Homo sapiens: one gene and its partners. The protein of the gene in region 1 interacts with the protein of each later gene in a biochemical or structural test. Each region holds a gene or a part of one and is shown in the gene's direction. Other genes may lie near its edges.

Region 1 (7,029 bases):
CTCAGCCAGTTAGTCTGGATAAACCAAACTTGAATGTATACATAGGCCCAGCGACCAACCAAGATGTGTTAGTTGTAGAGGATGAGAAACAACAGAGAGCCGTAAGGCCTGTATCAAACTTAAAACAAGGCAGATCTGTTTACCTAGCCCTTTGGCCTACAGTTTGAGGCTCCTAGAAATTATGGGACTGCCTTTTTACTGTCCCCACCTGCTCTCAGAATCTCTCATGGGCTGGCTCATGTGAAAAAAACCAACGTTGAATAAAGTACCAGAGCCCACATCTCAAGAGCTGCCACTGTTTGCCTGAAAGACCACCTCCCAGGGCCTTGATTTCCTCATCTATACAAATGAGAGATGAATCTGCTTGACTTCTAAGGACCTGTAGCTTCTAGCATTCTATGAAAAGAAGGGAGGCTATCTGGAATGTTATTGGATGCCCTCTATCTGCCAGTTACTTTGCAGGGGTCAGCTTTTACTAGTTTGCCTTTTTTTTTTTTCAGATGAGGAAACTCATGCCTACAGAGTGGTTAAATGTGAAGTGACTTGTCAAATCACACAGCTAGTAAGAGGACCAGTCCAAGCACCTGCATCTCAAAGGCACAGATGTTTTGTCCTACACCTTACTACGTAGGGATTTCGAATCTGAGTGTATACTCAAGATTCTGAATCATAACTCAAGGTTGACACCAGTAACAAAACCGTCTGGTTGGATGAGTTCACCAGATGGGCCTCTTATGGGACCATCCCAAAATGACAACATACATACTCACTATGAAATTCATTGGCAGGAATTTTGTAGGGCATGTAGGGTAGGAAGATGGGAGGGTGGGGGAAACCTACAAACCTAGTATTTTGTGGGGTATCATCACAGCTCTGGACTGCTTCAGTTGGCAAAAAAATGGATGTATTGCCAAATAACTATCCCACTTAGGTTTAGGGTAATTAATTAAAGGCTAGAGTGTTGCCAGCACCTTTGATATGGGGAACCGGATGCATTATTAGCTCAGATCTTTGGGTGTGGTGACTCATGCCTGTAATCCCAGCACTTTGGGAGGCAGAGGTGAGCAGATCACCTGAGGTCAGGAGTTCGAGACCAGCCTGGACAACATAGTGAAACCCTGTCTCTACTAAAAATACAAAAATTAGGGCCAGGCGCAGTGGCTCACGTCTGTAATCCCAGCACTTTGGGAGGCTGAGGTGGGTGGATCACCTGAGGTCAGGAGTTTGAGACCAGCCTGACCAACATGGAGAAACCCCGTTTCTACTAAAAATACAAAAAAGTTAGCTGGGCATGGTGGCACATGCCTGTAATATCAGCTACTCAGGAGACTGAGGCAGGAGAATTGCTTGAACCCGGGAGGCAGAGGTTGCAGTGAGCCAAGATCACGTCATTGCATTCCAGCCTGGGCAACAAGAGTGAAACTCAGTCTCATTAAAAAAAAAAAAAAAAAAAATAGCCAGGTGTGGTGGCAGGCACCTGTAATCCCAGCTACTCAGGAGGCTGCGGCAGGAGAATCGCTTGAACCCAGGAGGTGGAGGTTGCAGTGAGCTGAGATTGTGCCACTGCACTCCAGCCTGGGTGACAGAGCAAGACTCTGTGTCAAAAAAAAAAAAAAAAAAATGGAATGTCTAATAGTGTATGGCTTTCTTCCGCTTGGGGTATTTTTTAATCCATTCTGTGGCTTGTTCCATGCCTGAGAACTTTTGACATCCTGTGCCCAGACTTAAACTCACCCCTTCAGTGTGTGGGTTTAGGGGGAGAAGTGAAGGTTGACACATTCATATCAACAACATAGTCTACTTTACCATCCAACGATGTATTTTGATATCAGCCAAGTATTTCTCTCTACAACTGTGAGCAATGCTAATCCACTCCAGCCTTCTTACACTGTAATGATACCTTTTCTTTGTCCTCTCTGAAAGTTTCTAGTAGCATATCTCCAAATAATTATTGAATTTGAAAGCCTCAGCTGGACAAGTCTTCTCTGTGGTTGAATTGTGACAATGTCTGTGTTCCTTAAAAAAATAAAAAATAACATAAAACCAAGTAAGGTTAGACAAAACAGTTGAAAGTTTAAAATCCCTTGGCCTCATCTAGTTCAGTGGAGACAAACTTTCTAAATGGGAGGAGGGCCATGTAATGAGAGGAGAGGAGAGGAGAGAAGTATTTGATGCACTCATGGCCTCAGGGTCAGGGAGACCTGGAGGAGCAGTGGAGATGGTGGAGAGCCAGAGAACAGGTGCCACCTCCCAAGAGGCAGCCTTTACTCACCTCTGGCTGATTGGTGGGGTTGGGGATGTGGGTACAGGCATATCAGACCTTTAGATTTTTTTCAAGAAAAGCCAGAAATCTGGATCTTTTTTTTTTCCTTTAAGAGATGTCATCTCACTATGTTGCCCAGGCTGGTCTTGATACTCCTGAGCTCAAGCAATCCTCCTATCTCGGCCCCCCAAAGTGCTGGGATTACAAGTGTGAGCCACCGTGCCCAGCCTGGATTTTTTTTTTATGTTAAATATCTCGATTTTTTTTCTAGCATTGGCTGACTTCACATGTATAACCACCACTTGCAGACAAAGCGAACCACCACGTCTCCAGGCCAAATTCCAGCTGCCAGCATGCAGCCTCTGATCTGATTCTCTTGTAGAAGCATTCCTTGAGCCTGGAAGTTCTCATTTAACTCTTGCCATACATGAACTTTGGAACTCTGTTAGGCCCTAACTGTTGGTGATTTTGTAGCTTGTTTTCTTTTCATCTTCATTTTGCCAAGAGAATATTATTTTCTGGCCATCAGGAACCCTCAGATGATGGCCTTGTGACTAGATGTTTGACTCTATACAGGTCAGTTTCTTTTTTGCACCTGAGGGTCTTTAAGAGAAGGGATTGGACTAAATGATTATCCCAAGGTTCTTTCTTACCCTAAAATTTTAAAATATAGTAAGCGGTCCCAGTGAAAAGAACGTGAGCCAGGAAACAGAAGACCTGGGTTCTCGTCCTGGCTTTGTGTGACTTTGGTCCAGTCACATACTTCCCTGACCCTGTTTGTTCATCCATTAGAAAGAACGGAGATGACGCCTAGTTAGTGGGTGCTTGGAAATCAGATTAGAAGTGCTGTTGAGGGCTTTTGCTTCACCATATGGAATGGAATATGGGGGGTATTGGGGTGGTTGGAAGGTTGCAATGGGGGATCACCTGGAAGCAGGAAGCACAAGCCGATTAGCCAAAAATACTTTCAAAAATTTCTTCCTAACCCCCAGAATTCTCCTAACACAAAACTATTTACTTTGGAAGTTGTCCCTGAAGTCCTCACTACTGCCTGACATGGGCAAGGTTGGCCCATAAAAGCACAGAGTGAACTGGCAAGGACCAGAGTCCACATACATTAACTCCGGGGCTCAAGATTTTAAAGAACAAAATTGATAATACACCTTTCGTTGTAGTTTACTTTTTGTATAAAGCAGAAGCATTAGAATACTATATGGCAGTACTTAAGCTTAATGGTAATTCCACACATAACTGGCCAAAGATTTTTCACAGGTCACCATGACCTGGAACTAGAGTAAATAGTTATCAGTGAAAGTTGAGCCTTAGTATAACCAGAACAGAGGCTTACCAAAAGTTACAGCAGGTCTGGCCTATAAAATACCAGCCCAAGATTGGGATAGACTCTCCCGTTCTGTGGTAGAGCTGTTTTTTGAAGCCCCATTAAAAAGTACTGTATACATGAATATAGTGAGGCTTCACTGTAAAATGTCTTAAGCATCAGATTTTGCTTCTGACAAAATTTGTGAGACATGGCCGTTCTTATTCAAACCCATAAGGTCCTCACTCCTTGAAAGGGGCACGTAGCAGATACACATTTGCTAAACTGTGTACCAGTGCCAGCATTTGGAGCCACTGTGTATTGCTGGCGAGTTTTTCAGGACATGATCATACACAGGGTATTTGAATGTGGTTCCACGCTGGACATCCTGAAAAGGAAAATAAGAAAGTCTTCCTGATCAAATGTATCTTTATTTTAAGATTCGGGGTATCCTTTTAAGGCTGATGAAGGATACTGAAATGCTCTACAGAATTTCATCAGCTTTGCCCTAGATTGCAAAACTGTTGTTTTCCTCATTTCCAGTTTGGTAAAGATTTTATGTAATGATTTTTAGACTGTGTAGCATCTATGGAATAAAAGGGTTTTCCTGTTCTCAGTTTTTGCCCACAGGTGATATACAGATGGATGAAAAATATTCCTGGTCAGGTGTGGTGGCTCATGCCTGTAATCCCAGCATTTTGGGAGGCTGAGGAGGGCAGATCATGAGGTCAGGAGTTCAAGACCAGCCTGACCACCATGGTGAAACCCCGTCTCTACTAAAAATACAAAATTTGTGCCAGGCACAGTGGCTCACACCTGTAATCCCAACACTTGGGAGGCCGAGGCGGGCAGATCACCTGAGATTGGGAGTTCGAGACCAGCCTGACCAACATGGAGTAACCCTGTCTCTACTAAAAATAAAAAATTAGCCAGGCGTGGTGGCGCATGCCTGTAATCCCAGCTACTTGGGAGGCTGAGAGGCAGGAGAATCACTTGAACCCAGGAGGCGGAGGTTGTGGTGAGCTGAGATCGCACCATTGCACTCCAGCCTGGGCAACAAGAGTGAAACTCCGTCTCAAAAAATAAAAAAAATAAATAAATAAATACAAAAATTAGCTGGGCATGGTGGCTCGTGTCTATACTCCCAGCTACTCAGAGGGCTGAGGTGGGAGGATCGCTTGAGCCCAGGAGGTCCAGGCTGCAGTGAGCTGAGATCTTGCCAATACCCTCCAGCCTGGGTGACAGAGTGAGACCCTGTCTCAAAAAAAAAAAAAAAAAAAAAAAAAAGGGAAGAAAAGAAAAAGAAAAATATTCTTTTGCTAATGCGCCGGCCTATGCACTGCTTTAAAATTTTGAATCAGCAAAGATAGTATCTTTGGGTCCCTTTTACCCCCAGGATCCCTCTAACTCTGGCAGTTTTGAGGGCAGCCCCTCATCTGGCCTGGTCCAAATCCCAACTCCAGCCCCACTGTGACTGGCTGGTGACCTCTCCAAGCCTCAAGGTTGCCTTGAGGACCAAACACACTAATAATTCATGCAAAGTGCCTGACACAGCCCAGGCACTAAATAAATGTGCTCAGTTAGAAGCTAACAGAAACTAAATGGCCGATGTCTGAGGTCAGGTTCATGCATAAACTTGAAAAAAAGGAATCATTCCTATTTTTTCCCATAGATTTTCCCAATGAGCTTCCCTTCCCTACTCTTAATCATATAGCATTTTCATAGAGCTGTGTAAGTTGGCCCTTGTATTGGTTTTTCAGTGATGAGGATTTTTTTTCATTTCTTTAAATTTTTTGAGAGGGAAAACTGGTTAGATTAAGCAGCATTTTAAATTATATGTATTATATTTTGTGTATTTTTACATATTATGTTTTCTAAAGTTATGATTATTTTTAAATGTAGAACATATAGAAAATAGTATAAAATTAAAATCTCCTATAATCTCCCTCACCTAAAGATAACCACTATACCATTTTGCATACATCCTTGCAAACTTATTTCTACATCGGTGGAGTTTTTCTTTAAAAACAAAAACAAAAACAAAACAAGTGAGATGGTGATATGGTTTGGGTCTATGTCCCCATCAAGTCTCATGTTCAATTGTAATCCCCAATGTTGGAGGTGGGGCCTGGGGCAGGTGGTTGGATCTTGGGGGTGGATTTCTCATGAATGGCTTAGCACTATCCTCTTGGTGCTGTTCTCATGATAGTGAGTCTTATGAGATCTGGTTATTTAAGAAGTGTGAAGCACCTCTCCCACCCTTGCTCCTGCTCTTGCCATGTGAGATGCCTCACTCCCCCTTTGCCTTCCACCATGATTGGAAGCTTTCTGAGGCCTCCCTAGAAGCAGAAGCCACTATGCTTCCTGTACAGCTTGCAGAACCGTGAGCCAATTAAACCTCTTTTCTTTATAACTTACTCAGTCTCAAGTATTTCTTTGTAGCAATTTGAGAATAGAACAATACAGGTGAGGAATCCTATTGTCTACACTGTTTCATAATCTGCTTCTTTATCTAACACATTCTTTATCTAACACATCGTGACTGCTTTTCTACAGTGATAAATATTCTTTAGGATCATATTTAATGGCCACATATTGCAGTTCTATAACAGTACCAGAGTTATTTAATCAGGCTCCTATTTGTGGTCATTTAAATTCTCTTTTCTTACTGAGATTTTTTTTTTAAAGCACTGCTATAACCAAATCTTTGTACACAAAAATATAGTTATTTCCTAAAGTTAAATTCCTTGAAGTTGGATGGTAGAGCCCAAGGGTATATGCAGAAATCTCAGTGTTTTTTTTTTGTTTTTTGTTTCGAGACAGGGTCTAGTTCTGTCATCCAAGCTGGAGTGCAGTGGCATAATCACAGCTCACTGCAGCCTCAACCTCCTGGGCTCAGGGGATCCTCCCACCTTAGCCTCTTGAGTGGCTGGGATTACAGGCACACACCATCAGGCTTGGCTAATGTTTGTATTTTTTGTAGGAACAGGGTTTCACCATGTTGCCCAGGCTGGTCTTGAACACCTGAGCTCAAGTGATTCGGCTTCAGCTTCCTGAAGTGGCAGGATTACAGGCATGAGCCGCCACACCCGGCCTGAGAAATTGAAGCTTTTTGATAGTAGAACCAAATTGTTTTCTCCCTTAGAATGGTTTACAGTTGAATGTCCATTTCTTCCCAGCAGCACCGACATTGGGTGTTACCTTTTGGTTTTCTTAATGCCACAGCCTGCTTTTTCTCCCTGGTGCAGTGTCAGGCCAGAGTTGGCCGCTGCTGACCCCACCAACTTTACATCATACTCACTCTTGCCTTGGAATCTCCTGCAGTTCCAGGCCCTCTCCTTCCCACAACCCATCTGCCTAGCCAGTTCTTGCCTCTGCTCACCCCTCTCGTCTTTCTGAAACTCTCCTAAGTCTACTGGTGGAGACAGATGTGCCAATAGGGCAGAGC
Region 2 (7,029 bases), on another chromosome or scaffold:
AAGTGAAAGGAGGACAAGTGTGCATAATTAATTTAACCAAAAGCTGTGACGTGAACTCTTTCTCTCAGAAAATCAGTGAGACTAGTGTTTTAAAGGATGAACTTGGTTAACATATGGAGTTTTGTTTTTTCCTTTTATGACAAAGGAAGACAAAGCCAGCACTCATTTACTTAGTTTGGGCACCTCTAGTTAGAGCTAGTTTTGTTTGTTTTTTTGTTTTTTCCTTTTGTGATCCCAGCTTCTTCCACATTGACTCTGCCAGGAAATCAATTGCTTCTCGTGACTCATTCATGTTTCAGGTGGAATTTTTATGACTAATAGGCAAGCAGGCTGTGACGTGATTAGTTAAAGCTAGGTCAGATAGATTTCACACTCCATTAATTTATAAGCCTTTCTCATATGACTTTAACTTACTGTTTTTCCAGAATAAGAAAATTACAGGAAGAGATTAAAAAATTAGATATCAGATCTATTGCACAGAATGGTGACTTAATAATGATTGTATATTTCAGAACTGCCAAGTAGATTTTAAATGTTTTTACTACAAAAAAAAGATAAGTGTGTGAAGTGATAGATGTTAATTAGCTTGATTTAATCATTCTACACTGTAAACATGTATCAAAACATTTTGTTGAACCCAGTAAGTAGATACAATTATTATTTGTCAATTAAAAATAAAATTTGGCTGGGCACAGTGGCTCATGCCTGTAGTCTCAGCACTTTGGGAGGCCAAGGTGGGCAGATCACTTGAGGTGAGGAGTTTGAGACAGCCTGGGCAACATGGTAAAACCCTGTCTCCATTAAAAATACAAAAACTAGCCAGGTATGGTTGCACGCGCAGCTGTAGTCCCAGCTACTCGGGAGGCTGAGACACAAGAATCACTTGAACCTGGCAGAGGTTGCAGTGCGCTGAGATCGCACCACTGCACTCCAGCCTGGGCAACAGAAGGAGACTCCGTCTCAAAAACATAAAATAAAATTTTAAATAATTTTATGTTTATTTTATTTTATGTTTATGTTTATTTTATTTAAAATTTAAAAAATTTTAAATAATTAGACATTAGCTCTAAAGATTGTTCCTTGGTATAAAATGTAGGATTAAAGCCTACAAATAATATTGGTATCATTCAGGAAATTAAAGTGTAAATCTTTTTTGGGAAAAATTAGTCTTTGTCTTCCAATTAATGTTTCTTAAAAATCTCTGTTGGTCATAGTTCATACAGTTCTCACTATATAAGCTTTTATTTGGAAATAGTATTGCAAGTTGATACGAGTCTAATAGGACAGACTGATTTGGTCATGTAAAGCCTAAATGTCTGACAGACTGGTAACAATTGGTTGGCAAATAAGGTCAGTAATGGTTTGACATGGGAAAGTCAATTAACTTTATTTTTACTCAACATTCACAATTCAATTCAAACCCAATCTTTCAGTTACAGTTGATCCTGAATTGAGTTGGGCAAGAACATATGCCTAGATCCACACAAATTTATTCTCTAGTGGAATCTGGGAATGTCTCCTATTCACTCAACAAATGTTTACGCCATACCTACTGTATGTCTACTGTGGTAGGCTCTTGTGATTCATCGGTTAACCAAAGATCCCATCCTCTTAGAACTTATATTCTAACAGGTGAGCAATAGATACAATAAATAAATTGCAGCTGGGCGCCGTGGTTCACGCCTATAATCTCAGCACTTTGGGAGGCCGAGACGGGTGGATCACTTGAGGTCAGGAGTTTGGGACCAGCCTGGCCAACGTGGTGAAACCCTGTCTCTACTAAAAATACAAAAATTAGCCAGGCATGGTGTTGCACGCTTGTAATCCCACCTACTCAGGAGGCTGAGGCACTAGAATCACTACAACCCAGGAGGCAGAGGTTGTAGTGAGCCGAGATTGGACCACTGCACTCCAGCCTGGGCAAAAGAGCAAGACTCAGACTCAAAAAAAAATCTAAATAAATAAAAATGAGTAAATTGCATACTATGTTAAAAAGCAGTAAATGCTGTGGATAAAGTTTATAGAGCAGAATAACAGGGAACAGGAGTACTAGGGTGTGTGAAGGGAGGTTGCAATTTTAAACGGTAAAATTCCAGCAGACTTGAAGGAGATTAGAGAGATAATTAGGTATGTAGGTATCTGGGGATGAGCATTCCAAGCAGGTGGAACAATTGGTGCAAAGAACCTAAGGTGGGAGTATGCTTGGTGTGTTTGGGGAACCTCAAGGAAGAGAGTGTGGCAGGAGTAGAGTATAATAGGAAAAAAGGTCAGAGAGGAAAAATGGGAGGGGCACCATCAGGTCATGTAGGATCTTCATGGATCAAAGGACTTTGGCTTGTGTTCTCAGTGAAATGAGCAGATGTGACAGGGTTTTCATGAGATTTCATCCATATGACTTAAGTCTTTTTGGGGTTTTTTTTTTTTTTTTTGGAGACAGGGTCTCACTGTGTTGCCGAGGCTGGAGTGGAGTGGCATGATCATAGCTCACTGCAGCCTCGACTTCCTGGGCTCAGGCAACCCTCCCACCTCACCCTCCCAAGTAGCTGAGACTACAGGTGTGTGCCACCACGCCTGGCAAATTTTTTAATATATTTGTACGTAGCAATAGGGTTTTGCCTGGGCCTCCCAAAGTGCTGGAATTGTAGGTGTGAGCCACTTATGTCTTTTTTTTTTTTTTTTTTTTTTTTTGAGACGGAGTCTCGCTCTGTTGCCCAGGCTGGAGTGCAGTGGCACGATCTCAGCTCACTGCAAGCTCCGACTCTGGGTTCACGCCATTCTCCTGCCTCAGTCTCCCGGGAGCTGGGACTACAGGCACCTGCCACCACACCCAGCTAATTTTTTGTATTTTTAGTAGAGACAGGGTTTCACCGTGTTAGCCAGGATGGTCTCGATCTCCTGACCTTGTGATCTGCCCGTCTCAGCCTCCCAAAGTGCTGGGATTACACGTGTGAGCCACCGCGCCCGGCCCCAATTTATCTCTTAATAGGACTCTTGTGACTGTTGTTGAGAGTAGACTATAAGGGGGCCTAGATAAAAGCAGTAACAGAAACTCAAATTTTGAAGCCTTCTTGTAGACTATGGATAACACATTTGGTTAACAATGTGTTATTGTTAGGGTCTGACTGCTGAGATTTAAATCCTGACTCTGTTACTATTTTAGTAAATGACTTCTGTATCTTCATTTCCTCATTTGTAAAATGAAAGTAGTAATACCTCACAGAGTTGTGATAATTAAACTCATAATTTAAATAGTGCCGGGCAGTGTAAACACATAACAAAAATTGGTTGTTATCATTGTTAGTGTTCTCATCCTGTATTTGTCAAGCATGCTAATTCTACTACCATGATGTTTAACGTTCTTTCCTTTCCATATGTACTTAAAATATTCTAGTTCAGACCGCAGACAGAGCGGCTTGCCTGGACTATTATAGCCACTAATTGATTTCCTTGCCTCCTGTCCTTCTGTCCCAATCTTGCACAATACTGTTAGATTGTCACATTATATCCAAGCTCTAAAACCTTAATTTCTTTCCTCTTGCTTTCTACATTATGTGCACATTGAGCTCATGGCTCTCGTTCATGTAATTCCAGCTTTCCCTTCTCCAACATAAGTACACAGTACTGCATGCCTTTCCTCAGACTGTGGGTTCTCTCCTGATCTTGTCTGCAATTTGAAATACTTTTAATTTCACCTGAAGTGCTATTGACTATACTTTCTACTTCACTTCTCACATAGTATTTCCCACTGGGTACTGTAATCATTCGTGTACTTATCTACTTAGGTTTGGAACATTAGATGCAAGGGATTACATCCCTTAGAGCTTCATGTTTGTGTTCTACTGTAACTCCATGCCATGTAGTAAATGTTTTAATACTCATTGAATTGATTTTCTTTCCATTGTCATTCTTCTCTAGGAATGATCAACAGCATCAAGCAGCTGAGCTTGAATGTGAGGAAGACGTTATTCCAGATTCACCGATAACAGCCTTCTCATTTTCTGGCGTTAACCGGCTACGAAGAAAGGAGAACCCCCATGTCCGATACATAGAACAAACACATACTAAATTGGAGCACTCTGTGTGTGCAAATGGTAAGAGTTGGAGTTGTATTTTAGTTCTCTGGTTTTGTAAACCAGTGTTCATCTACTAGTTTTTATGTTATTCAATCTAGTGATAAGAAGATAGTCACTATTCTGGTATCCCATGGTACAACTATGAGTTTAACTTCTATTTGTAAAGTGACTGAGAAGGCGTTTTCTGCCCGTGTTATGTATAGATACGTGTCATCTATATGACATGTAAATATACCATATTTTATAAATGTAGTAAATAGTTTCTTTTTTCTTTTTATTTTAAAAATATTCCTATGTGTATATATCCAAGTGGGATAGAAGGAAAAAGGAAAGGAACTTAATGTTAATTTCTACCTCCTGTGTACCAGGTATTATGCTGAGTGATTTGCATGTATTATTGCTATGTTTTAATTCTCGTAACAGGCTTGTGAGATAACTATCAGCTCTTTTGTTTTATAGATGAGGAAAGATATGTTTAGAAAGGTTAACTCACTCAAGGTCAGCTATTATGTAGATGAGTCAAAATTCAAATACAGATCTTCTTAGCTCTGAACTTTCCTACTCTCCAGGTCTTGCCACATGGGTACTCCTGCCATTGGAGCTGTCTGTAACTGGCTATTTTTATTTGTTGTAATTTGTAGGAGTTAGTGGTAATCAAGAAATGGTGTTATAATATGTACACTTTGTGGCTTTTCAGTGACATGTTTCTAATTCCAGCCTAGTTTATCATTTCTGCTAAATGCTTTAAAACTGTCTTTTCACATAGTCCCAAAATTTGTTATGTGCCATGATACAAGTATTACTTTTAGTATTAATCTAAAGCAAACAGTAAAGACTTTAATTTTTAACCTAAACTATTTGCAACAAGGAAAGCATGGGGGACGGGGGATATATATGTACTACTATATTTGTATAATACAAATAAATTGTTGACAGTAAATATGCCTTTAAACAAATAAGCAGATCTTATTCTTAGATGTTGGAACATTGACAGTTTTCCCCCACTTTATAAGCGTTTGTATCACCATCTAGTGGAAAACAAAAGAACTGTTAAAAATCCTACACTTAAATAGGAGCTAAGTTAAAATGTAAAATCATAGATCTAAAATGAATATCCGTTGACCTTTTAGTTTGCTATCAGACAGGACATGAATCATTAAAGATAATCACTGCATAATTTACATCAGGTTTAAATTCACAAATAAGAATATCTAGAAAACAATTCCATATTAGGAAAGTCTTTTGTAACCAATATAAATGCTTCTGGTTTATTTCTTCTTTGTATGAAAGCAGCATGTAACTATTTAGAAATTTAATTCACTTGCTTTAACCTTGTTCTGATCATTTTTTACTTGGAATCTGAAATTTGGTTTTAAGATGTACGATAACCTTGAGCCATACAAATGATTTTAAAATAATTTTAAGGCCGGGCACGGTGGCTCACACCTGTAATCCCAGCACTTTGGGAGGCCAAGGTGGGTGGATCACGAGGTCAGGAGATCGAGACCATCCTGGCTAACATGGTGAAACCCTGTATGTACTAAAAATATAAAAAATTAGCTGGGCGTGGTGGCACACGCGTGCAGTCCCAGCTACTCGAGAGGCTGAAGCAGGAGACTTGCTTGAACCCTGGAGGTGGAGGTTGCAGTGAGCTGAGATCATGCCACTGCACTCCAGCCTGGGCAACAGAGCAAGACTCCATCTCAAAAATAATAATAATAATAATAATTTTAAATGCTTTAATGACTAATTAGTCCTGTTCTCTAACTTCCCTTGCTTGCTTATTTTAAGGTTTATAATGCTTTTTAATATTACTCTCAAGTTATAAATAGTAAAACCATTTCACTTTACCTTGTCCTTATTTTGGTTTTCTTTGAACTAAATCTTTAAATATTGGAGTGATTTCTGATAAAGCATGCTTCAGAGTTTCCTTCCCGAAAATAGAAACTCTAAAACAAAGATCATGGAGATAAATGATATAGTATACATTAGATTGATTGATCATTTGTTTATTGATTGATTATTTGAGATAGGGTCTCACTCTGTCATCCAGGGTGGAGTACTGTGGTGTGATCTGTAGCTTACTACAGCCTGGAACTTTTAGGCTCAAGAGATCCTCCTGCCTCAGCCTCCCAAGGTGCTCAGATTACAGTCATGAGCCACTGTGCCCAGCCCAGTATACCTTTTTAAATTAACCTGCTGATTTGTAACAAATATAAAAAGAGAAGTAACACTAAAATGTTACTACTCTAGGCAATTTGGGTTAGAAGAAGCTGTCTGTTCTAGTCCCCTCTCTCCCAATGTCTTAACTTAAACAGCTTTGTTTCTTAGTGAAATTAAAGGAGCTTACTTCTTAGAATATGATAATTATGTCAATAAAACAGTACTTATATTGGATTTAAATACAGATAATACATAAAAATTTTAAATATGAATAAATAAAAATAATTTGATAATGCTTTTCATCATCATTGTTTATTGTGTAATCTCTTATTTTTTTCTCCCCTTAGAAATGAGAAAAGTTTCCAAGTCTTCAACTCATCCACAACATAATCCTAATGAAAATGAAATTCTAGTAGCTGACACTTATGACCAAAGTCAATCTCCAATGGCCAGTAAGCAAGATACTGAGATTACTTTACAAGTTTAAAATTGTGGTTATTGGTGGGTAACAGTGACCCACAGTCTAACTTAGACAATATTTTAAAGGTATTTTCCATATAATTTTGTTTATATTACTAGTTTACTATCTTTTTCATATTGGAAAGTAATGTTATCCTATTCATATAAATATCCCTAATCATATTAATATAAATTACTAATAATTTTAAGTAAAGAAGGCTTTACTGTGATTTACTTATTTGTTCAACAAATATTGAAGCATCTGTTGTATACCAGGCACTGAATAAAACAAAGCCCTTGTCCTCATGGAGCTTATGATCTAGTTGAGGGAGAA
Region 3 (7,029 bases), on another chromosome or scaffold:
AGAACTATAGGACTATACTGTATGTGCTGCTGTAGATGACACTACTGTGTTAAACTTGCGTAAACTTCAAATATTAATCTAGTCAGGAAGTTTTAGAAAATAAAAAGCCTGTACTAAAGTAGGCATCCTCTTGATATGTGTCAGTTTATTGCTTGGCATGTTTGTTATATGATCATTAAATTACTCTGGCCCGTTCTTTTAACAATAAAGCATTGAAGACTTCTCTTCTGTTAAACACTAAATCCCTTCCCCGGCTTGATGAGGTTTAGATAGCAACTCAGTTGGACTGATCTGTTTCCGGAGTTTGTTACTGCCCCGTGCACAAATTGGCACAGAAGTGAATGGCTAGTTATTGAAGTCAGGCTTGCTTCTCGGTGCATCCTTAGCCTCATGGTTTTAGACCCTGTCAAAGACGAGCAAATAGTTGGGAATGTGCCCAAGCAAAGACCCATCTCCTATGGCACTCATCCAGAAAACACACTGATAAAATTGGCCAAATGTAGCCTCAACTGGCCCACTGATGCTCGAAATGATTTCCTTCCATTGTTTCCAACTTGATGCATGTGGTTTCTGGAACCAGGAGAGAGGGTGAATGTTCACTCTGGCCAGAAAAATTATCTCTTTGCCTCCCTCTTAAGCAGTCGGATACTTTGCTGACATGTAGGGGTTTTGTCCTAATAGTAAGTCCTCTGGAATTGGCTTTGTCTCTGTGTGTTTTATAGATGCGGCATTTGGTAGAGGATTTACTTTTGTGAGTTTGTATCCATCTTTTTTTTTTTTTTCAATATTTTAATCTGAGCTGAGTTCTGAGGCAGAGAAACACTCCTTAATGACCTGAAGAACTATGTTGCTTTTTCAAGGGTTGATGCTTAGATCAAGTCTTAGATCTTCTTGGGCCTTTGACAGCTGCGTAACCCAATCCCCTCTTTATAGGAAAGAGACAGCCTGGGATCACAGTTAGTTGCAGAGTGAACTATGGCAGGCATCCAGACCACTGACCTTTTCCTTAGAGAAGAGCTGTTTAAGCATATAAGATTATAGCATTGATGTCATACTTTTTCTTTTCAGACACACTCAGTGGGGGGAGCCTGAGATAATAGGGAATCCAGCCTGTAATTGTTTGTGGCTTAAGCGACTTTCATTATTGGCTCTGTGGTGGCTCTTATAATCCTAATAGCTGCTTCCAGGGGTGGGTAATTCTTTAGTCATTATAGGTGACTTTATTTGTCTCTTCTTCTCTTGCTAGGCCCATCAATTCTGTTTGCTACCAATCACCCTTCCTCAAGCCATGCTTTGCTTAGTGGTACCATCATTTGTTAAATCTTCATTGCTGACGTCGCCTCACAGTTTCACCTTCTGAAAGATGTTCAAGCTAACAGCCTAACTTGAGCTCTAAGGATGACATCACATTGACATTTTGATGTTCAAAGGCAGGATATGGGGATTGTTTGCTGCATGAGGATATGAAGTTTGAGAGAGATGGTGATTTAAGCTTTAAAATTGTTGTAAAGTCCAGTTACTATTCAGCCTTATTATTGATCTGGCATGCAAGGTGTGTTTTGCCTAGTTCCGTGTTTTCATGCTACTATTGAGAGTGACTCGGCAGCCACGTTGAAGCTGATTCATTGAACCACTAGCCCATTAGCTTGGGGCTCTACTCAAACGGTCATTTTACCAATGAAGCAACGCTGCCATTTATCAGGAAATATATGGCCTGGATCTTTACATGTATGTTTGAAGATAGGTCTTTTAAAATGACAGAAATAGCTATTGATCTAGGTAAAATGTGAACTTACTCTTTAGAGAAAGAGCCATTCGCTAGTTCATTGATTTATTTATCACATTTTAGATGGACACCTTCTGTATGTCAGGCACTGTCCTAGGTGCTAAGAATACATCAGTGAGTAGAACAGGAAAAAAAATCCCTGTCCTCATCTTGTGTTGCTGGTTCTAATATTTTCCTTGCACCTACTGCATCCCTATAAAAAATATTTTTCAAACATGGCGGTATCCTGTGAAGAAAAGAACTGGCTTTCTATACTTTGCTTTCTTCCCCCTCCCCACTCTGTGTTATAATTTTTCCCTTGGAACAATTAGAGGTCTGTTTACTCTAATGGTAATTTTCAGTAGGATTTTTGGTACGGTTTTCTACTTTATTCTTCCACCTGGTTGATACAGGTAGCACTTAGACAAAGAGAACTTCAGATTATCACCTGATTACATAATTATCAGGAAGAAGACACATATTAAGATACATGCATGGCTTTTTTCCTGAAAGGAATCTCCCTGTGTTGTCTGTGTTAACAAGTTAGGGTGCGGCTTCCTATTGATCTTCCTCTATTCTTTCTATCCTGAGCATTTTATTGAGTAAGCCTGACCTTTTCCTCCTTTGGTGATTAGTTCTGTCACTTTGTGTATGCAAATACCTTTAGCCATTGTTCTGAAACAGTGTGAGTGATTCAGCAGCACTTGCTAAACAGTCATAATCCCTAAACTCCACACCTAGTGACTCTGATTTTGTAGCATGGGAAACTAGAAACTGCTTTTCCAAAAAGGAGTATTGAAGAAAGGCAGGGCATACAAACAGGTTATGCAAACAGGGCATGCAGATAGGTTACTTTAAGAAAGACTGTGTAAAATGTTCTAGAACTGTGGGAATATTGTTGAACTACTTTCCACTGGGCAGAGCCATAGTATGACCTGGCCATTGTGCACAGAAGAGTCCAAATTTATGTACCATACATGAAATTAAGAAGCCAGCAACTACCTGTAAATGTCACGTAACACCCAAGGAGACTGTGTTACTTATCTGCTCACCAGTGGGAGGAGAAGATTGTCTGTCTCAGCTTTGTTAACCAGCTTTCTTGGGATTTCTCCATAGGCAATGGTGGCTTGCTATCCGGGAAATGGAACAGGTTATGTTCGCCACGTGGACAACCCCAACGGTGATGGTCGCTGCATCACCTGCATCTACTATCTGAACAAGAATTGGGATGCCAAGGTACTTTTGAATAATGGGAGTAGAGTGTGGGGTTAGAAACTACAGGAAAATGATTCAGATAACTTAGAGGAGAGTTTATATTGAGTTCATAGTTGCCGTATCTCCCACTGATGAAACATTTCTATTTCCATTTCATAACCTCCTGCGACAATGGAATTAGTCCTAAAGTTGTTAAGAAGAAAACAATGAAGTTAATTTGGAGTGGGGTAGGTAGGGTGATTATTAACCCTACCTCTGGGAAGGGTGGTTGATGAAGGGAAGGTAATTTGATATTAGGATTAAGGATTAATTTTTTTCAGTTTAATTCAGAGTTGTTCTGACTCAATGCAGAATAGGATATACACTTTTCCCTCCCAGCAGCAGCATTGAGAAAGTTCCACAAAAATAGAACTGTAGGCTATAAAACCATCCCCAAGAGAGATTTCCCACACAGTCCTCTCCCTCGGGGTGGTATGTCTCATTGATGGCTGCTTGCCATGGCTTACTATGGTTTGTGAATGCCAAAGGCTTTGTGGCTTATTTTTGTATTATAGAACTTATAGATAGATGGAGATATGAAGCCTGGTTCCATGCTTACAGACATTCATCTGGACTCTGTATGCTTTCCGAAAGTTAAGAATGATTTAGGAGTCTGGGAAGTCAGATAACTTTTCAAGCTTATTTGGCTTTTGAACCTTCTGCATCTCAATTTCCTGTTCATTAGGCAAATACTGGCTGTCATAAAGCAATAATATTTATCCAGAGTCAGAAAAACGAAACTTGGGAAACCATTGAATCAGTGAAAAGGCCTATCTCTTCTCCCTGTTTGGTAACATGACTGGAATACATCCATTAAGTCTCCTTTAAAATCTTGAGAGGTGCTGATAGAGACAAGAGAATAAAGTTATCAGACTGGTAATAATAAATTGCAAGGTCTGGAATCATTTAACAAATATTTGAGTTCCTGCTAGTGTCAGGCGTTGTATTATGAAGAAACATTGATGTGTGAGGCCTGAACTTTACTCTGAATATGGTTATTCTAGTAGGATGAAATAGGTTGACATGTAAAAAAAATAATTCAAGGAAGAGAGTGGTGTATGTCATAAAAGGTGCAGATTAGGTGGTCTGAGAGTTCAGTAAAAAGAGCATGTAACTTCCAACTAATGAGGTCAGATAGGAGCTAAGGGAGTTCAGAAGAGCTGTAAATTCTAATTGAAGGGGAAGTTACATGTGATGATTTTCTTAGAAAGTTGTTAATGGTTAGATGGAACCATGTGAGATCACTGGGCATTTTTTTTTAAGTCAAAAACACTCAAATATTGGCAAATCGGTATGATTCAATCTAATAGTACTCTATTTTACGTCCATGGGCTTTATGACTGTGGGGGGTGGGAGTGCTTTTTTTGGTTTAAGGTGAATAAGGAGATATCTCTAGCTAAGTTTGATATAAAATTTGGTACGAAGTGGCTGGGCGTGGTGGCTCATGCCTATAATCCCAGCACTTCAGGAGGCCCTAGTGGGCGGATCACCTGAGGTCGGGAGTTCGAGACCAGCCTGACCAACATGGGGAAACCCCGTCTCTACTAAAAATACAAAATTAACTGGGCATGGTGGTGCATGCCTCTAATCCCAGCTACTCGGGAGGCTGAGGCAAGAGAATCACTTGAACCAGGGAGGTGGAAGTGGCAGTGAAACGAGATCGTGCCATTGCACTCCAGCCTGGGCAACAAGAGTGAAACTCCATCTCAAATTGGTACAAACTATGAGGTTGAAGTAAAAATCTGGGGTACCATGCATTTGGAGTGGTGGTTAGCAGATGGCATGTTTCTAAATGGAGCTGAAATATGGTTGTTGATAAACTACATGAGAGGTAAGAAATAATCCCCCTTCTTTGTGTCTTTCAGCTACATGGTGGGATCCTGCGGATATTTCCAGAGGGGAAATCATTCATAGCAGATGTGGAGCCCATTTTTGACAGACTCCTGTTCTTCTGGTCAGATCGTAGGAACCCACACGAAGTGCAGCCCTCTTACGCAACCAGGTAATAGCCGGAGCCATGATTCCTCTTCCGGAGCTTGGTGTACAAACCCTAGTTCCAGAGAACTCTTTAAACGTGTGTCCTGTGCATGTGGGGGATTGACCACACCCCATAGCTGATAGCAAACTTGTTTGGAGTCTACAAAAATTAAAGGGGAAACTTTGCGTTCTTTAGCATATCAAACCTAACCTCAGTTTGAAAGTACTATTAACAAGTTGTTTTCTATTAGATGAGCATATTGGATTCCAATTTCTCAAAAGTATTTTTCTCTTCTCTCCTTTCCTCCCTTCTCTTATCTCTCTTTCCCTTTTTTTAAAAAACCTAATGTTGAACTATGCCTAGAGAATGTTGGCTGTCACATATCAGGAATTCTGTCTGGTTACTTTGGATGAGTTTACAAGCTGCTAATTGCAAGCAGAGAAAGAGCCTTGAGAAGAGAAAGAGTAATTTGTTTTGACTTTCTCTTTTTGTCTTTTCCTTGGTTTGAAATTGGCTTGGGCTTGCTGTATCCATGGTCCAACAGTTGGATGTTTTATTAATCTTTTCTTTATCATGTGCACATGAAGATTCTCAGAGTAACTGAACACCTTAGTATTGTTTAGGACCAATCTAGACAATCTTGACAAAAAATCTTCATTCTCAATTCTGCCTCTCATTTACCTTTGTCTGTGTCTAAAGCAATAAGCCGGGCAGCATTGGAGGGCTATGGAGTGCAGCTTATACTGAGACTAGCATTCAGGGGCAGGAGGAGAGAATTTTGGTAGGATGATGATTAAACCCTAACAAGCCTAATTAAATTAAGATCACATGTGCCCTCCTCCGGAAGTCACACAGCTTAGCCCCAAACCCAGTTATATATTAACTGCCAAATCGGAATGTCTTCTAGATGAGCAGGGAACGAATTCTACCACTGAAGTCAGCTTTTGTGTTTTATGGGGTATGTAACTAAACCCTGTTGTTTGTGGCAGAAGTCTTTGGTTATTCCCCAATCTCATGATGACTGGCCTTACAGGGAAAACATTAGCAAATGTTGATGAGAAGTCCCTTGAAAAAAACTCAAGTGCTATAGAAATTGTTAGCTACGGAAGTAGCTAACAATCATTACAAAATGAAACTTTAAAAAAAAACCAAGCATGAAATGGCTCCCATTACAGTCTATCCAATGAATGGGATAAAGCAAATTAGTGGGGATGCAGTAGAAAGCTCTGGGGCATTATTATTATTCAATTGCAATTTTGCCTCAATGTCCAAAACTAAAGAAAGCAAGCCAAGAGTTTTAAACATACTGTGATTTACATAAGTCGTTTTTCAAAGCTTCACTCAAATGTCATCTCTTCTCTATGTTCTCGCCACCAACTTGGGTCTCCCAGTCTTTAGCAGAATGACTCCCTTCTAGTCCTTTCTGTAGAGGCTATGTTTACCTGTTGCATTATTGCAAAATCACCTGTCTCCCCTACTTGGAGCCTGAGATCGCAGAGGAAGATCTGATCACAGGGTCATTTGAATTCCTAATGCCCAAGATAATTTCTGGCACATACCTGGAATTCCTTATGCATTTTATTACATTGAAATAGAATTAAAACCAGAGAAGTTAATTTTAAATTAAAATCAGCGTAGACAGGCCGGGCATGGTGGCTCACACCTGCAATCCCAGCACTTTGGGAGGCCGAGGTGGGCAGGTCAAGAGATCGAGACCATCCTGGCCAACATGGTGAAACCCCATCTCTACTAAAAATTTAAAAATTAGCTGGGTGTGGTAGCGTGCACCTGTAGTCCCAGCTACTTGGGAAGCTGAGGCAGGAGAATCGCTTGAACCTGGGAAGTGGAGGTTGCAGTGAGCCGAGATCACGCCTCTGCCTGGCAACAGAGCAAGACTCCATCTCAAAAAATAAATAAATAAATAAATAAATAAATAAATAAATAAATCAGGGTAGACTTCTAATAATAGAGAAAACTTTAAAACTTTTAATGTGAGATTTATAGGACATTTGTGTTTCTAGTAGTACCATTA
Region 4 (7,029 bases), on another chromosome or scaffold:
ACTAAATTAATTTTAATTATTCCAAATAATTAGCTTTTTTCATAAAAAGCTAGTTATTCCAAATATTAGCTTTTTTCATGAAAAGCTAGTTATTCCAAATAATTAGCTTTTTTCATAAAAAGCTAGTTATTCCAAATAATTAGCTTTTTTCATAAAAAGCTAGTTATTCCAAATAATTAGCTTTTTTCATAAAAAGCTAGTTATTCCAAATAATTAGCTTTTTTCATAAAAAGCTAGTTATTCCAAATAATTAGCTTTTTTCATAAAAAGCTAGTTATTCCAAATAATTAGCTTTTTTCATAAAAAGCTAATTTAAATTTGGGGCAAGTGTATTATTAATGGTACATATTGTATTAAAGTTTGTGTAATGTAATATAAAGTGGCCACATTACAAAATATAGGTTGTTTCAGCTTGCAAAATTAAACAACTGTATAAAACAAATTTATAACTGATTGCTAGTAAGAGGTACCATGTAAGAATTGTGTTTCCAGCTGAATGAAGAAATTTTAAAACCTGGTTCCATATATTACAAATCATGAGCCAGGACTTTGGTAGGGGAGGAATTGGGGGCTTTGGCTCCCAAAAATCTCTGTCACATACCCCCTCCCCACCACAAGTACACAATCTATGGAAAATTTGTGCTTATCATAATTACAGCTTTAAGTAATTTTCCCTTCTCTTTGGATATTGTATATTTGCATATTGAAGAGGTTCAAAACAACAGTAATAACATGCATATTAAGAGAATTTGCATTTCATAAATAGTACAAGATAGTACTAAAAAATTGGACATTTGAAAATATGAAGCAACTAAGAGTTGCTTAATGAGATGTCATTTCCTAACAGGATGTTCATTTATGGTTTTTGGCTACTATTGCTCTTTGGTGTGTTTGTGGAATAGAAATTATTCCAAGCTATTGTGAAGAGTCAATAATTAACCAAATGTATTTATTTCCTAAAAAGACTAAAACTGAAATTATTATCATGTAAAGATGGCATCTGTCCTAGGCAACTTGGCTTTATGCAGTTTGTCCTTTCAGTTTTCAGGAATGAGACCTCTTGACCCCTCCCCTCCAATGCAGCCCCTACTAAGGGGGAGTTTAAGGAGCCATACATAGTTCTATAATTCAAATCAAGTAAACATGCTTCTTGTCCCAGGTTAACTTGTGCTGCCTCAGTCGCTGTTTAAACATTTTTATACGCACTGTTAACCTGCCTGCCCATTACCCTATTACTTTTAATGGATAAACTACTGTTCCCTGGGCAGTTGTCTCTTTTAACGTCCCACCCTAAACTTGCCAACCCTCATATGAAGGCCTCAGGCTTGTTATTGGCAAAGGTCAGAAGTCTTAAGCTAGTGACCTTGCAGGCTAAAGTAGGCCTTGAATTTGTTTGACCAGGAACTAAATTAAAAAATAAAAAAGAATGAAATGTCTGGTGGCAGGGGGGCAGGGGTGGGGAGGGTGGTAAGGGGGAGGGCATGCACCCCCAAGTTCCATTGTTGCAGCCCCTCCCATCTTAACTCTGGTCTCTTTTCACTTTTCAACTACCTTCCTTATATACCAAAGGTATTTGAATTTTTAACTCTTATTGATCTTTTATTTCCCTAAACCATGTAGTAATTATTTGCTGATTTCCTAATGTATTGTTATTTCTGTCCCATCACTGTTTTTTGCAGATAATAAAACCATCAGACCTGGGCTTCAATAAAGCCCCACTTAGTGGCCGTGATTGACAAGTGGTCAGGCTGCACCAGGCCATGCTGTGAATGCTCTTTAGGAAGTCTTGTCTCAAGGTTTTGAAGATATTAATGTCTAGATGACAAAAGTGGTACCTTAGTCACCTTACTTATGGTTATTAGTTGTTCATTAATGGGACATGAAAACTCCTAATTTAATAAGGAAAAATTGCATTATGTTGTGATGTTATATTGTCAGGGTCAGCAATACAATTGTCTTTAAGGAGTTGGAAATGATACTGAATGTCACGGGTTATGATGTGTTTATTGTGTTTTCTAATTTTTTCTAAACTTGAATATTTTATCTTGAATGTCAATTATTTGTTGTTTTTATAGCCTAAGTTACTAAAGTAATTAAGTAGTGGGGTTAAAACTGTTAAAATGTCACACTACTCCCTGTCTCTTAAAGACCCTGCTTGCTGTATAGCCACTCCTTGGAGAGGCTACACCAACTGCAAAGGACACAGGGATAGTATCTGTGGGTGGTGACATTGGGGCATGGGAGGTACCTAAAGAGTTTAGGAGTTGGAGAGGAAGGAGCATTTCTTTACAGCCAGGGGCTGGGCATCATGTTTAATTACCACTTTTTTTTTTTCTTGTACTCTATTGGTTGAAAATAGTAACTATTTTTCACCTAACTTCTCTAATTACCAACTGTGTATCTTTTTGGCCTTATTCTATGTAATTTATTTGGCGTCCATTTTTGCAGGTAAATCACATAGTGAGTATCCAGAGAGGACCAACTTATGTATTTAAACTTTTGTTTATTTAAAAGTTTTATAAACTTTCTTTAAAAGTTTTAAACTTTTTAAATCAAAGTTTTTTAAACTTTTTTAAACTTTTACATATTATGTTTTAAACTTTTTATATATTTAAATTTTCCAAATATGGGACTTGAGATTATTAATAAAATTTAAAATAATTAAATCATTCTAAATGCATTTAACTGTATTTTCAGGAAGTACACAGGCAGACACTGTGTCAGGATTTTTATGTGTGTGATTGTCATTACACTCATAATTAGAATGCTTAAACACACACCCTACCCCCACCTCCCCACACACATCCACTCACCCCCTAGGAGTGCAGCCCTGTCCCACCTTAACATTACAAACCTTCATTTGGGGCTATGCTGACAAATCTTCATTAAAAACTATGGATTACAAACTGGTAAACTGCAAGACAAATAAGGCCTTGAATTTGTTTGACCAACACAGTATTTTTAAAAAAGTAAATGTCTTTAGGTGGGAAATGCATGCCCATGTTGCTATAGTTGCAGCCCCTCCCTCTTTTAATCCCACTCTTTTTACACAGATAGTCACCTTTCTATTTTCTAATTAATAACTTTGTTCATATCAGCTAACCATTGTTGAATACTCACTACATAATTTACCTGCACTATTTAATTAAGTCCTCATAATTAGTTTGAGGTATACTATTATTGGGCTTCTTTGAATGTCCCATTTTATAGCTTTTCCTAGGAGGCATCAATTATTATTTCTTGAATGACTGCATAATGACAAAGGAAACTGACATACACATATTGCTGCTTAGTGCCATTTCTGTCCCATAGAGAATTTTCTTTGGGGATTTAAATTATGGTCAGAAAAGTAATTTAGGCAGTCCTGTGGTTTTTGTGGTGGTGGTTGTTTGATTTGATAACCAGTTACCTTCTCGGTGGCAGTGGAATAGGGTTGTGACAGTTGGCCAGAGTACCCTCCTGCCCACAGGGCTGATGAATACATGCATTGTGATTTTAATACTCCCTTCTTGCTTTAATGAGATTCTATTAGTTGCAGTATTAACTATTTTTGGCCTGGCTTCTTTAATAACAAAAGTTATTATTTTGGCTTTAATTTGCATAATTGATTTTGTATCCATGTTTGCCTTGAAGTTTCTTGCTGTGTTTGAATACAAAACTACTTGTTTAGAGGGTTTCAACATTCTTTTATAGTTTATAAAGGTAAGCATGCTGTTGATAATGTATTGTTGAATCATAATGAACAGGTGGCCTTTGAGGAAGACAAGGTCATTTGAACATCAAAAAGTACTTTGCTTTTTGTTATATATGGTGCTGATTACTAACTTTCTCTTGAGAGTTTATTTTCTTTGTTCACTAATTATTAATGTAAGCACGTAGAGCAAGGGATAATTTAAATACCAAATCCTTTGTGTCTGCTTTTGCTGCTTTGAATGTATAAGTTGGATTTATACATACATTTATCTTTATTTACAGAAATAAGCGGGTTTTGAAAACAAAAAAAAGAAGGAGTGGAAGAGGGGGCCAGGATCCAGGCCTCCATCCCCACAGAAGTGAAGCTACAGCTGGGAGGTCTCCTCCCACCCCAACCGTCACCCTGGGTCCCGACTGCCCACCTCCTCCTCCTCCCCCTCCCCCCAACAACAACAACAACAACAACTCCAAGCACACCGGCCATAAGAGTGCGTGTGTCCCCAACATGACCGAACGAAGAAGGGACGAGCTCTCTGAAGAGATCAACAACTTAAGAGAGAAGGTCATGAAGCAGTCGGAGGAGAACAACAACCTGCAGAGCCAGGTGCAGAAGCTCACAGAGGAGAACACCACCCTTCGAGAGCAAGTGGAACCCACCCCTGAGGATGAGGATGATGACATCGAGCTCCGCGGTGCTGCAGCAGCTGCTGCCCCACCCCCTCCAATAGAGGAAGAGTGCCCAGAAGACCTCCCAGAGAAGTTCGATGGCAACCCAGACATGCTGGCTCCTTTCATGGCCCAGTGCCAGATCTTCATGGAAAAGAGCACCAGGGATTTCTCAGTTGATCGTGTCCGTGTCTGCTTCGTGACAAGCATGATGACCGGCCGTGCTGCCCGTTGGGCCTCAGCAAAGCTGGAGCGCTCCCACTACCTGATGCACAACTACCCAGCTTTCATGATGGAAATGAAGCATGTCTTTGAAGACCCTCAGAGGCGAGAGGTTGCCAAACGCAAGATCAGACGCCTGCGCCAAGGCATGGGGTCTGTCATCGACTACTCCAATGCTTTCCAGATGATTGCCCAGGACCTGGATTGGAACGAGCCTGCGCTGATTGACCAGTACCACGAGGGCCTCAGCGACCACATTCAGGAGGAGCTCTCCCACCTCGAGGTCGCCAAGTCGCTGTCTGCTCTGATTGGGCAGTGCATTCACATTGAGAGAAGGCTGGCCAGGGCTGCTGCAGCTCGCAAGCCACGCTCGCCACCCCGGGCGCTGGTGTTGCCTCACATTGCAAGCCACCACCAGGTAGATCCAACCGAGCCGGTGGGAGGTGCCCGCATGCGCCTGACGCAGGAAGAAAAAGAAAGACGCAGAAAGCTGAACCTGTGCCTCTACTGTGGAACAGGAGGTCACTACGCTGACAATTGTCCTGCCAAGGCCTCAAAGTCTTCGCCGGCGGGAAACTCCCCGGCCCCGCTGTAGAGGGACCTTCAGCGACCGGGCCAGAAATAATAAGGTCCCCACAAGATGATGCCTCATCTCCACACTTGCAAGTGATGCTCCAGATTCATCTTCCGGGCAGACACACCCTGTTCGTCCGAGCCATGATCGATTCTGGTGCTTCTGGCAACTTCATTGATCACGAATATGTTGCTCAAAATGGAATTCCTCTAAGAATCAAGGACTGGCCAATACTTGTGGAAGCAATTGATGGGCGCCCCATAGCATCGGGCCCAGTTGTCCACGAAACTCACGACCTGATAGTTGACCTGGGAGATCACCGAGAGGTGCTGTCATTTGATGTGACTCAGTCTCCATTCTTCCCTGTCGTCCTAGGGGTTCGCTGGCTGAGCACACATGATCCCAATATCACATGGAGCACTCGATCTATCGTCTTTGATTCTGAATACTGCCGCTACCACTGCCGGATGTATTCTCCAATACCACCATCGCTCCCACCACCAGCACCACAACCGCCACTCTATTATCCAGTAGATGGATACAGAGTTTACCAACCAGTGAGGTATTACTATGTCCAGAATGTGTACACTCCAGTAGATGAGCACGTCTACCCAGATCACCGCCTGGTTGACCCTCACATAGAAATGATACCTGGAGCACACAGTATTCCCAGTGGACATGTGTATTCACTGTCCGAACCTGAAATGGCAGCTCTTCGAGATTTTGTGGCAAGAAATGTAAAAGATGGGCTAATTACTCCAACGATTGCACCTAATGGAGCCCAAGTTCTCCAGGTGAAGAGGGGGTGGAAACTGCAAGTTTCTTATGATTGCCGAGCTCCAAACAATTTTACTATCCAGAATCAGTATCCTCGCCTATCTATTCCAAATTTAGAAGACCAAGCACACCTGGCAACGTACACTGAATTCGTACCTCAAATACCTGGATACCAAACATACCCCACATATGCCGCGTACCCGACCTACCCAGTAGGATTCGCCTGGTACCCAGTGGGACGAGACGGACAAGGAAGATCACTATATGTACCTGTGATGATCACTTGGAATCCACACTGGTACCGCCAGCCTCCGGTACCACAGTACCCGCCGCCACAGCCGCCGCCTCCACCACCACCACCGCCGCCGCCTCCATCTTACAGTACCCTGTAAATACCTGTCATGTCCTTCAGGATCTCTGCCCTCAAAATTTATTCCTGTTCAGCTTCTCAATCAGTGACTGTGTGCTAAATTTTAGGCTACTGTATCTTCAGGCCACCTGAGGCACATCCTCTCTGAAACGGCTATGGAAGGTTAGGGCCACTCTGGACTGGCACACATCCTAAAGCACCAAAAGACCTTCAACATTTTCTGAGAGCAACAGAGTATTTGCCAATAAATGATCTCTCATTTTTCCACCTTGACTGCCAATCTAACTAAAATAATTAATAAGTTTACTTTCCAGCCAGTCCTGGAAGTCTGGGTTTTACCTGCCAAAACCTCCATCACCATCTAAATTATAGGCTGCCAAATTTGCTGTTTAACATTTACAGAGAAGCTGATACAAACGCAGGAAATGCTGATTTCTTTATGGAGGGGGAGACGAGGAGGAGGAGGACATGACTTTTCTTGCGGTTTCGGTACCCTCTTTTTAAATCACTGGAGGACTGAGGCCTTATTAAGGAAGCCAAAATTATCGGTGCAGTGTGGAAAGGCTTCCGTGATCCTCTCGCTGCACCCTTAGAAACTTCACCGTCTTCAAACTCCATTTCCATGGTTCTGTTAATTCTCAAGGAGCAGCAACTCGACTGGTTCTCCCAGGAGCAGGAAAAACCCTTGTGACATGAAACATCTCAGGCCTGAAAAGAAAGTGCTCTC

What was found.
Region 2: the proteins of SIAH2 (region 1) and RBBP8 form a complex in vitro, tested with the Homo sapiens proteins (2 studies listed by BioGRID).
Region 3: the proteins of SIAH2 (region 1) and EGLN3 form a complex in vitro, tested with the Homo sapiens proteins (2 studies listed by BioGRID).
Region 4: the proteins of SIAH2 (region 1) and PEG10 form a complex in vitro, tested with the Homo sapiens proteins (one study listed by BioGRID).

Annotation. Positions count from the first base shown.
Region 1 is NC_000003.12:150,753,162-150,760,190, reverse strand, and holds part of SIAH2 (E3 ubiquitin-protein ligase SIAH2), read left to right. Parts: intron 1-7,029. UniProt on the Homo sapiens protein: E3 ubiquitin-protein ligase that mediates ubiquitination and subsequent proteasomal degradation of target proteins.
Region 2 is NC_000018.10:22,978,303-22,985,331, forward strand, and holds part of RBBP8 (DNA endonuclease RBBP8), read left to right. Parts: intron 1-3,915; coding exon 3,916-4,091; intron 4,092-6,583; coding exon 6,584-6,688; intron 6,689-7,029. UniProt on the Homo sapiens protein: Endonuclease that cooperates with the MRE11-RAD50-NBN (MRN) complex in DNA-end resection, the first step of double-strand break (DSB) repair through the homologous recombination (HR) pathway.
Region 3 is NC_000014.9:33,927,068-33,934,096, reverse strand, and holds part of EGLN3 (prolyl hydroxylase EGLN3), read left to right. Parts: intron 1-2,881; coding exon 2,882-3,001; intron 3,002-4,884; coding exon 4,885-5,021; intron 5,022-7,029. UniProt on the Homo sapiens protein: Prolyl hydroxylase that mediates hydroxylation of proline residues in target proteins, such as PKM, TELO2, ATF4 and HIF1A. Target proteins are preferentially recognized via a LXXLAP motif.
Region 4 is NC_000007.14:94,659,359-94,666,387, forward strand, and holds part of PEG10 (retrotransposon-derived protein PEG10), read left to right. Parts: intron 1-3,975; coding exon 3,976-5,176; coding exon of another isoform or gene 5,177-6,324; 3' UTR 6,325-7,029.